Homo sapiens: one gene and its partner. The protein of the gene in region 1 interacts with the protein of each later gene in a pairwise test. Each region holds a gene or a part of one and is shown in the gene's direction. Other genes may lie near its edges.

Evidence for each region.
Region 2: the proteins of MTERF3 (region 1) and SCAMP1 interact in binary tests that used the Homo sapiens proteins (3 or more experiments, as listed by UniProt).

Annotation. Positions count from the first base shown.
Region 1 is NC_000008.11:96,250,825-96,259,501, reverse strand, and holds part of MTERF3 (transcription termination factor 3, mitochondrial isoform 1 precursor), read left to right. Parts: intron 1-801; 5' UTR 802-811; coding exon 812-1,145; exon of another isoform or gene 1,146-1,280; coding exon of another isoform or gene 1,281-1,310; intron 1,311-2,387; coding exon 2,388-2,540; intron 2,541-8,406; coding exon 8,407-8,596; intron 8,597-8,677.
Region 2 is NC_000005.10:78,474,986-78,482,285, forward strand, and holds the end of SCAMP1 (secretory carrier-associated membrane protein 1), read left to right. Parts: intron 1-518; coding exon 519-683; 3' UTR 684-5,754; downstream 5,755-7,300. UniProt on the Homo sapiens protein: Functions in post-Golgi recycling pathways. Acts as a recycling carrier to the cell surface.

The DNA of each region.
Region 1 (8,677 bases):
AAAAATATTTTTGAAAACTACTTTTTCAGTCAAAATATACAGGTATTAATTGCTGGTTGCTTATTTATTTCTGTCACTTGGTTTTGTTACTAGTTTTGACCTTTTCTTTTTGAAGGCTTTTTTCTCCTTTCCTACAGTGAAACAAAACTTGACAAAACTGGTTTTGTTCAATTCCCTTTGGAAGAACAGCTTTATCTGTGAAGTAATCAACAGTGTTCAGCCCTGAGAATGAAGCAAGAAACTGCTTTCACTGTTCTGTATATCAATGATAATATTTTGATGATTTGTTTAGGACACAGTAGATTTCTGTTTTTTCATTTTGGGACAAATTTATATACATAAAATGCATTTGAATAATTCAGTGTTACTTTGATCAGCAATGTGCTGCGGAAACACCCTTCACACCAAATTTCAAGAACACTTATTTGCATCAGCTTATTCTCTTTAAATGATTAAATTAACAGATTAGTGAGGTCTGCTGTCACTTGAACATTTGCAGATTTTTGTTTTAAGCATTTTTCTTACACCAGTGTCATTGCATTTTGTTTTTAAATTGTAAAGTATATCTTTATTTTTCCACTCAGAAGTTCCTGTCTGTTGGTTTGTAACTGAGATTGCCTTGTTGTTGGCTTTTCCTGTACATAAGAAACATCTCACTATTTTAGACTAAATATATATTTAAACACCTTTCAATTAGAAAAAAATAATTTCCAGTTTATCTTTTTGTTGTTTGAATACCGTTTTAAACATTTAAGTAAATTAAATTTCTCTTCTTTTGACGGTTATATCTTTCCTTTGTAGACTAAGAAAAATGGCTTTGTCAGCCCAACAGATACCCAGATGGTTTAACTCAGTTAAGTTGAGGAGCCTCATTAATGCTGCACAACTCACAAAACGTTTTACTAGACCAGCAAGAACACTGTTACATGGCTTTTCTGCTCAGCCTCAGATATCCTCTGACAATTGCTTTCTCCAGTGGGGATTTAAGACTTACAGGACTTCCTCCTTATGGAATAGTTCCCAGTCTACTAGCTCAAGTAGTCAGGAGAATAATTCTGCCCAAAGCAGTCTGCTTCCTTCCATGAATGAACAGTCACAGAAGACACAAAATATATCCAGCTTTGATTCTGAGCTGTTTCTAGAAGGTAATTCTGAACTTTCAGAAAAGTCTCCCTTTCCCTACTTTGGCCATTTGAACAAGCTACCTGTTTACCTTCTGCTAGCCCATTTCAGGTAATATTTTGTGCCAAGAAAGAAAAAGAATAATACCAGTTCTATTGATGAACTTCTATCATGCCTTTATTTTACTGGTAAGAAAAAAAGTTTGTGGGCTAACGTGTAAGATTATTTTATAGCTACACATATAAAACATTTGCTTTTTAAATATTTTATTGTTTAGATTCTTAAAACAAAATTCTTCTAGTGGTAATTAGTTTTATTAGGGTATAATTATATCAAGTAAAATTCATCTTGTGGGATATATAGTTCTATGAATTTTGACATATGCATTTAGTGTGTAAGAACTACTGCAATCAACAAATAAAACAATTATATTAACTCCACAGAGTTCCCTCATGGTCGCTTTTTAGTCAATCCTCTCCTTCCTATGGGTCCTATTCTAGGAATATTTCGCTGGTAATGAAATGATATAAGGTTAAGTAGAATATGAAGGAAAGAGAGCTGGGGAGAGGGCAGGGAGGAGATGCTGGCTATAAATGATGAGAAAGGATAGTTAATGATGAGAAGCACAAAACAGAACAAAAGATCACAGACCTGATTCCTTAGCTTAAGGTAATGTGTAGTTCTAAGTGTCTTCCATGCTGCGTTTGATTTTAAAAAAACAAAAACAACTTCAGAATCAGGGCTGTACTAGAGAGTCACATCTCCTGTAGAGAGGACTGCAGGTTGTAGAAACAATCATAGAAGCCCTTTTAAAGATGTATTTGAGGGTAACTTGGAAGGGAGGGCATTGGGTCAAAACAAAGACTTTCGGGATATGATTACTTTAATCCATGCAATTCAGACTGTTGGCATATGTGTACTTTTAGCCAAGTTAACAGGCTATGGTAAACTCAATCTCTGTTTCAAAATTCACTTGAAAGTTAGGTGATTTTTAGCATTCTCACCTACTGATTAAGTGAAGGAAAGGCATTGTGTGCTTTGAAATTTACCAACAAATTTCTAATCTCAGAGGAACAGTAGTTAGTCTGTCTAAATAGTTGTAACCTTACCTCTTAAAAGGTGAAAAATTAGGGACTTGGATGTTTAATTCTAAAATGATCCCAAGATTTAACCACTGAAAGAAGCAAACAAGGGAAGAGCTGGTCTTTGCAGAAATAGTTTTAAGTGTGCATATTAGAGCACTAATTTGTTTCTCTCTTTCAAAGAACTGGATGAATTGCCTCCATTGTCTCCAATGCAGCCAATTTCAGAGGAAGAGGCTATTCAGATTATTGCAGACCCTCCATTGCCACCAGCTTCATTCACACTTCGAGACTATGTGGATCATTCTGAGACTCTGCAGAAGTTGGTTCTTCTAGGTAAGTTTGACTAAACTACAAGTACTTTTTGCATGTACTCTTCATTACTTTTTTTACTTTTTTAAATTAACAATTTAATCTATACTAAGTAGTATACAAACATAAGCAAAAGTCTAATAGCATAAAGGCTTCTAGTGAGAAACCGTATTCCCTGCCTCATCCTTGGTGATCTTGCATCCTATTCCCCAGATGCATCTACTTAACTTGTATCATTCTTTCTGTTTGTGTTCAACCTCCTCATTTTAAAATAGTTGTTTGTAGTGCTGTTGTTTGGTTCATCAGTTTTAGACATCATTTGATCTCTTGTATGTACACATGTACTTTTCCTGTATTCTTTTCAATTCTCCTAATATAAATTACAATTTTAGATAAATCATTAGTCAGTAGTTAAATTATGACTATAAATATTGCTATCTGCCCTAACAAGAAGTATGCTATCATTATTTACCTTCCTGTACAACTTTTCATTTTTCCGGCAGTAATAGTTGCCTTGTTCTTCATTTGATGAATTGTTTTGTTTGTTTGTTTGTTTCTGGGGTTAAACTTTTCCATACCTTCCAGTAGCCTCTCAGGACAGTTTTTCCCAGGTAACCCTATCAGATGATGTATTTCATTTCTCCAGAGTGGATTGTTCCCTGCTTGTCACACTACCCCGACCTCCTTCCTGAAGCCACTGTCCTCCTGATTTGAATGGTTTCTAGGCCTACTCTATAGCTGCCTTCACTTGTTGACCATTAGGTTGCACTTGGATCTGGATAGCTTAAGGGAGCCAGGGGATCTCCGTCCAAACTTTCATTTAGTCATCTTATTTTTAGTCTGGCATTTTATTACAAACTTTTGCTTTCCTCATTTCTCTGGGTTTGGTACTTCTCATACTTGATTTTCCCAGATAATGAATCTCCTTTCTCCTAGTGCATTGAGAGGAACTGGATTTGGGGGAGGTCGGGTCTCTCCATACCCAATACCCCAGTTTTTAGTCTGTACCTCACCTCTAATCTCTCAGATTTCTAGGGACTCCAATTTTGGAGACTTTTGAGTTTTTTGTGGTACTGATCACTTACCACTTGCCAGATTCTCATTTGCAGGCATTTCAGTGTCGTCTTTCTCCTCTCCGATAAGGCTGTTGCCATGCTTTCATCTGTTTTCAGATGTTTTCAGATATGTGGGGATATAATCTCGTTTCCTCAAAGAAGGATCTCATTTTTTGTTTGTCATTCCCCATATTTTTGGGAGGTGATTTTTAACAGGAGAGGAAAAAGAGAAAAATCTGTGCTCTGTTAGAAACTTTGGGGGTCATCCTTGATTTTTTTTTTTTTTTTTTTCTTCAGACTGGGTCTCACTCTGTCTCCCAGGCTGGAGTACAGTGGTACCATCTCAGCTCACTGCAACCTGCCTCCCAGGTTCAAGTGATTCTCCTGCCTCAGCCTCCCTGGTAGCTGAGATTACAAGCACGTGCCACCATGCCTGGCTATTTTTTGTATTTTTAGTAGAGACGAGGTTTCACCCTGTTGGCCAGGCTGATCTTGAACTCTTGGCCTCAAGGGATCTGTCCACCTCGGCCTCCCAAAGTACTGAGATTATAGGCATGAGCCACCGCACTCGGCCTATCCTTGATTCTTATTGCTTTTGTCCCCTTCCTCTTTACATCTAATTTAATAGCTTATCCTATGGATTCTACCCTCTCTATTTCTTTCAAATCCATCCACTTCTCTCATCCTACAGTCACTACCTTGTTTAGGTCCTCATTTGTCACTGAGTGGCTGCAGGAGCCTCCTATCTTGATAGTCTTCTCCTCAGCAGTATTGGCTCTGATATCTTTCCAGTGTTAGTGCTCTTTCTGAAATGCAGATCTAAGTCAGTGACCTATTTAAAATCCTTCAAAACCTTCCCATGGCATCAAAGCTTTTCCTGATTTGGCTTCTGCTTACCTGTTCAGCTTCATGGCTTGCCACTTCCCTCCTTTGTTTAGCCAACTCCAACAACTGGAGAACATCACTGAAGTCCAAGTAACTTCTAAAGTGTCTTCTTGACCCTGCAGACAGAGTGACCCTCTTCAGGCTCTCATTTCACTCCCTGCTTACTTGGATCCTAGCATTAATGACACTCTATTATAATTGTATACTCATCTGTCTGTGCCCAGTTACCCATATGTTACCCATATGTTTAGAATGGCCTTTGTTCTCAAGAAGCTTCAAGTCCTCAGAAACATCTAAATATATAAGAATAACTGGAATGCAAGGATGAAGAGCAAAGTGATAAGTCCCACATGAGAGGCAAATAAAGTGTTCTGTGAATCAGCCTAAGTGTCCATCAGTGGATGAATGGCTAAAGAAAATGTGGTATATTTATACACTGGAGTACTAGTCAGCCTTGAAAAAGGAGATCCTGTTATTTGCAACAACACGGATGAACCTGGAGGATGCTATGCTAAGTGAAATAAGCACAGAATGACTAATGCTACGTGATCTCACTTATATATGAAAGCTAAAAAAGTTGAACTCATAGGAGCAGAGGGAGCTGGGGAGTGGGGTGGGGAGGAATGGGGAGTTGTTGGGCAAAGGGTACAAAGTTTCAATTAGACAGGTGGCATAAGTTTTGGAGATCTATTGTCCAGCATGATGATGGTAGTTAATAATAATGTATACTTGAAAATTGTTAAGAGAGTAGATTTTAAGTGTTCTCACCACAAAAAAAAGTCATGAATATGTAAGGTAATGAATATGTTAATTAGCTTGATTTAATCGTTCCACTATGTATACAAATGTCAAAACAGCATGTTGTATCCCATAAACATATAATTTAAAAAGTGTACATTCAGAGGCAGGAAAAAGATGATGTCTGCTGTGAGGAGACAGTCACTTTTCCTTTCGAAACAGCTTTCCCTGTCTTATGGCAGGTGCTATGGATGATACAAGATAAAACCTAAGACACAGTCCCTGTCTTATCTTTTTTTTGACACAGGGTCTTGCTCTGTCACCCAGGCTGGAGTGCAGTGACACAGTCTTGTCTCATTGCAGCCTTGACCTCCTGGGCTCAAGTGATCCTCCCACCTCAGCCCCGCAAGTAGCTGGGACTATAGGCACATGCCATCTGGGCTAATTTTTTTTTTTTTTTTTTTAAATAGAGGGAGGTCTCACTGTGTTGCCCAGGCTGGTCTCAAACTCTTGGGCTCAAGCTTTCCTCCCACCTCGGCTTTCCAAAGTGCTGGGATAACAGGCATGAGCCACCGTGCCTGGCCTAGTCCTTATCTTTAAATAATTTACAGTATACTTACAGGTTTGGAATATGTTTCAGCCATTCCTTTACCTGTATGCTGATACTTCAACAGCATGTCTTAGAAGTAACTTAAATAATAGTAACTTAGGGGAGCCTTATTTGCTCTGTCAGACAGTATTTTTGAGTACCCAAGTCCTAGTTTTTTCTCTGTTTGCTTCTGAGACCTGTTTTCTGCCCGATCTGTATCCCAGGAGGCCAACCCCTATGCACCAGGGCTCCTATGCCAGCTGGCTTCTTGGCAGCTTCAGCCAGTGGGAGGCACCTACAGGACAGAAGGTAGAAGGGTCAGGTGGGGATATTTTTCCCGTTCCTTCCCTTCTTTGGGTCCTGTACCTGCCTCACTCCATGACAACAGCACTCTTGAGCAGCCCTTCCTTAATAGCCTCTAGTCCCTCTGCGCCGTGGTAACATTTTGCCTCCTTGTCTCTTTATTGTTGGGAAGGCTCTTGTTTGTTCTCTTAAGGCTGCTCACACCGCTGTATAGAGTCCCTTCATTAAAGTCCTTGTCATTTGTACTTTCCAGGGCACGTTGTATAGCCTGCTAGACCCTGATTGATGTACTAAATACGTGTAACCATAACTGAATAAAATGGTAATATTCGTAATTACTGAACTGATGAGGTAAAGCCCAACTAGACTGGTCACCTAGAGGTTAGAATCGTGTATTATTCTTTTTTTATAACCCCAATACCTAAAAAAGTGCCTGGTCCATAGTGGGCATTCAGGGAATATTTTTTCAAGTTAATGAAATGAAGTGAGCCCAAGTTATTTGCATTGAGAGCAGTGTGCATTCCTGATGAGATTCTGCTCTCCTACTGCTGTTAAAAAGCAGCTTTTCAGGATTTCTGTTCGAGCACAGTCAGGGTGTGACAGCTCATGCTGAGCAAAGCACTTCAGTTCATGTCAGCTGTAATATTTAGTTAAATGTGAAGTCTGAACCCTTTATGTTATTTTTAGAGCATCCGCTCCCCCATTTATCACAGATTTTTGGAACTGGTTTTCATCTTATTTATTTGTCCATCTAATAATTGGATTTATTTTTCTACTAATATTATTTTTAAATTACAAAAGAATTACATCCGGTTGTCAAAAGTGCAGATATTATAAGAGAAGGACCTCTTACCCTCTCTTCGTCCCCAGTTCCACTTCTCAAAGGTAACCACTATTAACCAAATTGTGGAATAGCTTTCCAGACCTTTTTCTACACTAGGTTTTATACTATTCTGTAGTTAAACGTAATTTTTTTTGTTTTTCTAGTAGAGTTAATGTATGTTTAGATTCTTTATCTAGAATTAATTTCCGTATAAGATATAAAGATAATTTTTTTCAAAAGTATAGCTAATGGTCCCATATATTTTAACAAATAGTCTATCTATTTGATTTGAAATGCATTATTGTTTGTATAATAACATTTTTTAGTTTATTCTGGATCTGTTTCTCATCTTCATTGAGTGTGCGTATTATTCTGTTTTCACACTGCTGATAAAGACATACCCGAGACTGGGCAATTTACAAAAGGAAGAGGTTTAATGGACTTACAGTTCCATATGGCTGGGGAGGCCTCACAATTATGGCAGAAGGTGAAAGGCACGTCTCACGTGGCAGCAGCCAAGAGAAGGGAGCTTGTGCCTGGAAACCCCCCTTTTTAAAACCATCAGATCTCGTGAGACTTATTCAGTATCACACAACAGCACAGCAAAGACTTCTCCCCATGATTCAGTTACCTCCCACCTGGTCCCTCCCACGACACATGGGGATTCAAGATGAGATTTGGGTGGGGACACAGCCTAACCATATCATTGTGTCTGTGTATTTAATCTATTTTACTGTTCATGGGCATCTTAATACCTGTTTAATATCAAGAAATTTGGATTTATAATTATATTTGGTTCTAATAATATTTGGAGTTATAATGAATATGACGATTTTTTTTTGACTGTGTGATGCCATTAAGAAGTTTTAAATGTGGAGGTTTAAGGTTGTATACTTTCTGCTTTGTTGTATACTTGAAGGGCTATGTGTTCACTTGTTCTCACTCAGACATTTCTTGAGTTTCTTCAAGGGACGTGTCTCCGTGCTAAAGACCTAGAGATTACAACGATGAGTAAGGCACAGGGTCATTTTTATTCCCCCTATGATGGGAATCATAAACATATTTTTTAAATAATGCTTATAACTAAGGAAAAATAAAATCTTCAAAGAAGGTAACATTTTATTCATATTGTTTGTTACCCTGCAGAATTACCAGTTACTGTGGGGTTCATCTGGGACTGACAAACATTCTGAAACAATATTCAAGAAACCTTAGACAAAGATGATGACCCTACACCAATATGACTTAGTGAATTTGTTTTGGGGGGAAATGTAGCACTAAATGCTCTATTTTCCTCTGTACTTGATTTTTAAAATAAATACTATGTTGTTTCTGCAACCAACTTAGTTTAAAAATATTTAGAAGTTTCTATTGATCTATCTCAGTGCTCCTTTGGATAGGTGTTGATCTCCATCAGTAATTTCTTGTGCTTATGTATATGAGTTTAATGGGTGAACTAAGAAGTCATCTTCAAACAGTATTTATAATTTATTATAGGCGTGGATTTGTCCAAGATAGAAAAACATCCAGAAGCAGCAAACCTCCTTCTGAGACTGGATTTTGAAAAAGACATTAAGCAAATGCTTCTGTTTCTTAAAGATGTGGGTATAGAGGATAACCAACTGGGAGCATTCCTGACAAAAAATCATGCAATTTTCTCTGAAGACCTTGAAAATCTGAAGACCAGGTAGGACTTTTAAAAGGATTCTCATATAACCTAAGAAGTGGTTATGAAGGAAATATATGTGGAAGGTATTCTTTAAATCTC
Region 2 (7,300 bases), on another chromosome or scaffold:
AGAGTGCATAGCGGCAATATGTTGAAGGACATAAGTAGTGCTTGGTACATTAAATGATAAAATGATCTCATTTGATTATAACAGGGCCTGTGGTGTATATGTAGATAAAATGGAAATAGATAAGGTACTGTTCTCTCTGAATAGTCTGGGGTAATAAATTAATGTATTGTTTCTTGTTATTATGTTTAAACCATTTCATTGTAATGCTGTAATAATTTCACTTGACTAATTGGGTGCAGAGGAAAATACAACTTTTTGAAGTTGGCTAAGAAGTTCTTTATTTTTGGTTTAAATTAGCATAATTATCTCTTCTGCTTGGAGAAGAAAAGGAAAACCTATATTAAGAAAATGTTTAAATACAATTATTGTGTGTCAGTTTGGTGGCTAATATTCTTGATCTTAGGAATCATGACTACAATCTAGTATTTTTATGTTTGATTAATGTTGAGATTAAGAGCTGCTGGAAATGAATGCGTAGGTTGCTACTTACCTTCTCCCACTTTTTTGTGCCTCTGTAGGTACATGGACTATATCGCACAACAGGTGCTAGTTTTGAGAAGGCCCAACAGGAGTTTGCAACAGGTGTGATGTCCAACAAAACTGTCCAGACCGCAGCTGCAAATGCAGCTTCAACTGCAGCATCTAGTGCAGCTCAGAATGCTTTCAAGGGTAACCAGATTTAAGAATCTTCAAACAATACACTGTTACCTTTTGACTGTACCTTTTTCTCCAGTTACTGTATTCTACAAATATTTTTATGTTCAAAACACACAGTACAGACAGCATGGATATTTCCTGTTCACTTGTGCATGGGCTAAAACCAGGAAAACTTCCTTGTCTTATTACTTTACCTAATAGTTTCTTAATATTTCAGTGCCCCTTGCAGAAAAAATATTACATGCTAAATAAATATTCTCCATATTTTTGGGGGATGACATTCAGTGAATTATTTCAGTGGTGACCCACTGAAAATTAATAATGGTACTTATGATTAAAAACGCATTTAATACTAACTGCAGTAGTTCTTTCAAGAATCTTTAGAGATAAGGATTGCACATTGGAAAAGTAAACCATGTTTCATTCCTTTTTCCCTATTTATATTGAAAGAAATAGGCCAGCAGAGACTTAGGGATTTTAAATTGGCTTGCTTTTTAGCTGTTTCAGTCACCAGTGAAGAGCCTATGTGCATTTTGTAGTAGATAATGTAAAATTTGTCATCTTTTTCTTTTCTTTTTTTTAGAATAGCTGATATTTTGATAACAATCTCTAATTTGCATGGGCACCACATTTCTTATATTAAAAGAATTAGTGTTTTGGCTTCTGTACTGCTTATGGTTGTAGGATTCAGGGGTTAATGGAATCACAGAAATGATATTCTGCAAGAATTTCTTTTAAATAAAAAGTTTGGGGGTGCAATATAAGAAGTTTATATAATATGCAGTACATTATCCAAAAGAGAAGGTAGTTAATGCAGTAGAAAGTAGTGGTAATAATTCCTTTTTAAAAAAATTTCGGTAGTCATATAGTAACATTTTGCTATATGAAAACTTTGGTATATTCTGTGGTTACAACTAAGATTGTGTCTGGCAGCTCTTTTTTGGGGATGTGTGTGTGTGATTTTTAACAGAGGTATTAAAGGCTAGCCTAACTGTTGTCTAAAAAGATTGTACAGTATTTAAGGGATTTTCCTTTTAGCTTTTCATCTCCAGTGGCATTAAACATAAAAAGACCCTGGCATTTTTTCACATACTTGAATCCCTAAATGCACCTGTCTTTCACTTTTTGAGACAGACTGAATATATCTAAAATTTCCAGCAATAAAAAAAAAAGCATTTAACTTGCACCAAGCAAGAAAATATAAATACAGTTAACTGCATTAAGATAATCACGTTAAAATTGTTACTATGCAGCACAGAACTTCATTCTTATAGTATTCTTGGGTTCAACCTTTGAATCAATTTTACCACTGATTAAATAAATGACTCAAAGACATCTGTAAGTCATGCTGCTGTGTTTTGAAAGTCTTTAACTAAATTAAGATTGCAGAATGATAGTGATTATTCAATTAGATTTTAAGTAAGGATTGTGATATTAGAGGCTGGAAATCCTTATTTTTTAAAAAATCAGATAGGCATAAATAGTTAAATCACTTTCATTCTCCCCAAACCTGTAGTTACAGAAAAAGTTTTATGCTAGAGGTGGGATGCCAAGTTTTCACTATCCATGAAGCAGCGCTGCATGTCACTAGGTAACACAGATCCATCCAGATGGTGTTTACATTTGATTTATTTGGGATCTTATTGACATCAGGTATACTTGGAAGACATTTCTTTTATTCTTCAGCGTATGAATTTAAAGCTATTTTTTGTAAATATTTCTAATCAGCGATAATTTCTACCTATGTTCTCAACCAACTTAGCCAGTTTGTTTTTCAGAGCCTGTAGTCTTATTGGAAATCTATTTTATCAGTGTGCTTTATTGAGTGTGGATTTTGCATACATTCAAAACATTAACCACAAAATACAGCAAGTGCACCTATATTCACCATTAACTTATATCCCAAGTCCATTTTTTCCTGTACACTACAAACAAAAGATATATTAGAGACTTTTGAAAAATGCTGAAATACTTTGCTTCAGAATTGGAATGTTTATATTATGTAGAAATCTTCAAAGGTAGCATTATTAAATAGCAAAGAATAATTAGAACCCACATATCTTTTTTTGTGTGGATGGGGAAAATGTTTTAAAATCCAGTTATTTAATATGAGTTTGAGAGAGAAAATTGTTTTTTAAAAATATATGTGCATTGAAATGATGGCAATGCTTATAGTATGATCAAGTATGAAAGGAACTTTAAATTCTTATATTTACTTTTCTCTCAGTAAATTGTTAAATTTTCACTCAGCAAAAGATTGGCATTTGTTAAGTGTTCTATATTTAGTACTAAAATCACAGTCATGAAATCATAGTCATAAAATGGTCTTCACACAGCAGTCATCCGTGTCATTTATCATTTTGTAATATTAAATTATGGCAATTTTATTTCAAACTAAAGTTTGAACACCGGAAAGTCATTACTCAGTGATTTGTAATTTGGGACTTGGATTATTTATCTAGAGATGTTTGTATATTTTGTCAGTAACTAATACTGCGCTGCCATCATGGTGACTGTCATGGTTCTACAGAAATGCCCTCCATGTGTCCCTCTAATGTTGCATGTTTCAGTGGGTTGGAAGTTTTGTATATTTATTGTATTAACACAGAGTGTCATAAAATAAAATGCTGTTTACTGGATGTTTGTTTGTATAATTTTGAACACTATAATAGCAATTCAGAGACAGACATTGTTAAAGGTTTGATGTATATAGAAATTCCATGTTTGATTTTTTAAAATATGTGTATAAGTCTGTCATGTGCTAAACAAAATAATATGAAAGACCTAGTTAAAAATTCTAACCAATGTAAAATGACCATTTTTCTGTTGCATTAGACCTTTACAGGTAATGGAACATGAGCTTCACCCATATTAAATATTTTGGCCCCTTTAAGGTCAAAATACAGATCATCTAGAAGTTAGATTCAAAATGGAAAACCTATTCATGGCTCAGATTTTTCATTGTGGGTTAAAAATGGGTGTCTCTGTACTAGTATTGTATTTATTCAATTGAACTTGTATTCTGATTTCTATCCTTGCTACCTATTGCTGTTTTATGTACTGATGAAAGTACCTATTTGTGTATATTGGATTTTTCACTTGGTTAGCTAAAGAAGATGTAAAAATATCTAAAATAATGTTCATGGTGAATCTTATTTTGAGAAATACATGTTAAAAAAGGAACAGTATTCTTTATTTTCTGGGTGTTATATTTAAAAAAGCAAGTTTGGATTTTTACACCTAATTTACTAGGAAAATATTTTATTCTGTAATTCATGTTAAGATTATGTATGGTTTGCATTTTAAGGGGATTTATGTTAGGTTAATTAGTTGTTTCTGTAAATCATTTGTAATAGCATAGTGCTTTTTACTCATTGCTGTATCTTTTTCTGAAAACACTGTTGTTAACATCTAATTCAGTATCCTTATTGGTACAAATCTGTGTTTGGCATGACTGTTTATATACAGAATTTGTTACATTTTGAGCATTTTTTCCCCTGCTTATGTATACCTTAGAGTTACCATGGCTGTCATATACCATTTCACTATATCTCCTTTCAGTTTTTCCTTAAGGAAAATGTTTAGAGGAATTTGTTCATTTCATGTGATTAAGCCCTTTAGAGATGAAATAAGATTGGTTAATTTTAAAAAAATTGAGGATGGTTAAAAAATAGAAAACACCTTACTTTGATACATTTTAAAGTACAATAGTATACATTTATTTAGAGTAGACTAATGTGTTTAAAACATGAGTTGTTTTAAATACTTTTTTATTGAGCTAAAAAGTTTTATCTCACATATTAAGTATTACAGAAAGTGAAGTATTTTGGCTAGAATTTTAGGGCATATTTTATAAAGCAGCATGCCTGTAATATTGGTGGGTATTTTTAAACTTTAGGACTTTATCACAGTATGTAGAGAGCTAGAAATAAATCTAGAAACTTTCTAAGCCAGGTATTGCCACTAACCTGTCTTATATAAGCAGATACCTCTTATTTGAAGATTGTAGGAAAATAGAGAAAGACTGTTCTCCAGTTTTCTCACCCCCGCTGTGGGTTTTATATTTACAATTTAACTTTGGGGTTTGGGTAAGACAAACATTTAATGTATAGGATTTTGGCCAGGTGTGGTGGCTCACGCCTGTAATCCCAGCACTTTGGGAGGCCAAGGTGGGCGGATCACGAGGTCAGGAGATCGAAACCATCCTGGCTAACATGGTGAAACCCCATCTCTACTAAAAATACAAAAAAAAAATTAGCTGAGCATGGTGGCGGGCGCCTGTAGTCCCAGCTACTTGGGAGGCTGAGGCAGGAGAATGACGTGAACCTGGGAGGCGGAGCTTGCAGTGAGCCGAGATCTCTCCACTGCACTCCAGCCTGGGCGACAGAGCGAGACTCCATCTCAAGAAAAAAAAAAAAGAATTTTCATTAGTGCTGGCCGTGTTTCAAATGGCAAGGGAACATGGGAACTATCATGTGGCAATGTAGTGAGTGTTAAACTTTGTGTTTGTCCAAATCCTGATTTATTTTTCAGTTCATATCTTTCTGGGCTTGACATGGCTGATGGTGTAGCTGAAACCCTCCTAACACTAAAAGCCATTTAATCTTTTCTGTAATAGGAGCAGAAAATAGTTAATCATCCACCTAGTAATATAAGATTACTGTGAATATTATCTTCTATACATTAAAACAGTTCTAGTTTGTAGAATAATACCATACAAGTTTTATTTTTAAATTCTAGTTATTTTCAGTGCTTACTTAAATGTAATTCTAGAATTCCTCCACAACTTTTAATATTTTGTATGCCAGTGATTCTCAAGATAAATCATGATTGTAGTAGTTGTTACTGTTGGCAGTTTGTAGTAGTATTCAGGTATTTTGGGGATGGGGGAAAACACCAAAAATCAGTGTCTTTTATCTGGTGATCACTGTGGTATCTACAGTATTCTAGTCTCCTGCACAAAAACTGAACCCACTGGGCCTATGCATCCCTCACACTTTTTTTCTAGTATAAAAGCAATACATAATGTGTTGTAGAACAATTAAAAATTCAGAAAGTGATACATGAGAAAATAAAAATAAATCCTTAATTCTGTCATCTTGGGGTACCTCTGCTAATATTTTATTGTCTTCCATTCTTTTTCTATGCATATGTGTTTTGTTTAGTTAAGAGATATAAGCAATATGGATTTTTAAAAACCTTATTTTCCCCTCACTTAGCTTTATGTCATAATGGCGCAATAGTTTAGTTTTTTAAATTAACTTTTTTAATTTATAAAATTAATGTATATTTCAGTATAAATTATAGAAAATATAAGCAAAAGAAATAACCAAAATTCTCATAATTTTACATCCATGAATAACTTCTATTAAAATCTGGTTTATATCTTTCTATTTTTCTAGGAAGACAACTTCCTAATATTAAAAATGAGATGACCCCGTACATCCTTGTACATCCTTTAGGGATGTCTACCTACTCCTCAAAAGCCCCACTTCTTTGGGTCCTTAAAGTCCACATTGGTACTGGATGTCATCTGGCCATAGTGGACTCATTCCTGGCTTATCAGTTTTTTATTCTGAATGTAGATATGTCTAGAACTCTACTGTTCCAGAATTGGAACATAAGAGGTAGCCATTTTCTGCCATGAGGAAGGAATCACCAAGAAAGCTGGTCTGCAATGAAAATGAAGAATGAAACAGACATAACAGGAGATGTAAAATGAATGACATAGAAAAGATCTTAGTGGCTTTCCTTTTCCTTTATGGAGCCCTACTTCTCACCCTTATCCCATTATCCTCATAATCTTACCGCTTTTTCTCCCTCAACTATCTTGAATTGGTTTCTTATTACTTTTAACTGGAGGATCTTAACACAACAGTTTATCTTATTTCAGTTATGATATAAATATGTATTGAAGATTTTAATATCTCTGAATATATTTCTGTAACATTTAGTATAGCTATATAGCTAACATCATATGTATGTATCATAAAGTCTTGTTATTCCTTTAGGTTCTGATTTTCAGGGTTTTAAAGTTATAAATAATTTATCAAGGAATATATTGTTGCTAAATTTGGGGACTCGGGCTTTTGTTTTTTCTTTAGGACAGATTGCTGAGTTAAAGGGTATTATGCATAGTTTTTAAAGCACCTTTCATGTGCTTTGCCAAGTTGCTCTCCAGAAAAATTTTATCCATATGTAACTCCATCAGCAATGTACGGAAAGGCCTCTTTCTTCACATCCTTGGCCAGCATTGGATGTTCCTTTTCTAAAAAGTCTTTTATCCCAATAGATTTTGACAAATCAGGTTTCTTTTCTGAGCATTCTGGTTTCACATGGCTTATGTGCTCACCCAATGCTACCGGTTTGTTTGTTTGTTTTTGTTTTTGCTAAATAGGAGTAACTGAGTACCCTGCATCCACTGAGAAATCTTCTGCTTCCTGAAAGCTCTAAGGTAAAGATAATTAGCTGAATGCTCTGTTATAACAGGATGGAAAAAGAAATGGTGGCCTCAGGTAGCCAATCCACTGAGTCTCTCCAGGTAAAATTACACTGGTTTCGACAAGTTATGTTACCTTTCATAGAATGTAATTTTAAAATGATATTAGTCTGGGTGGGTAGTATTTTCTTAGTTTTTTTCTAA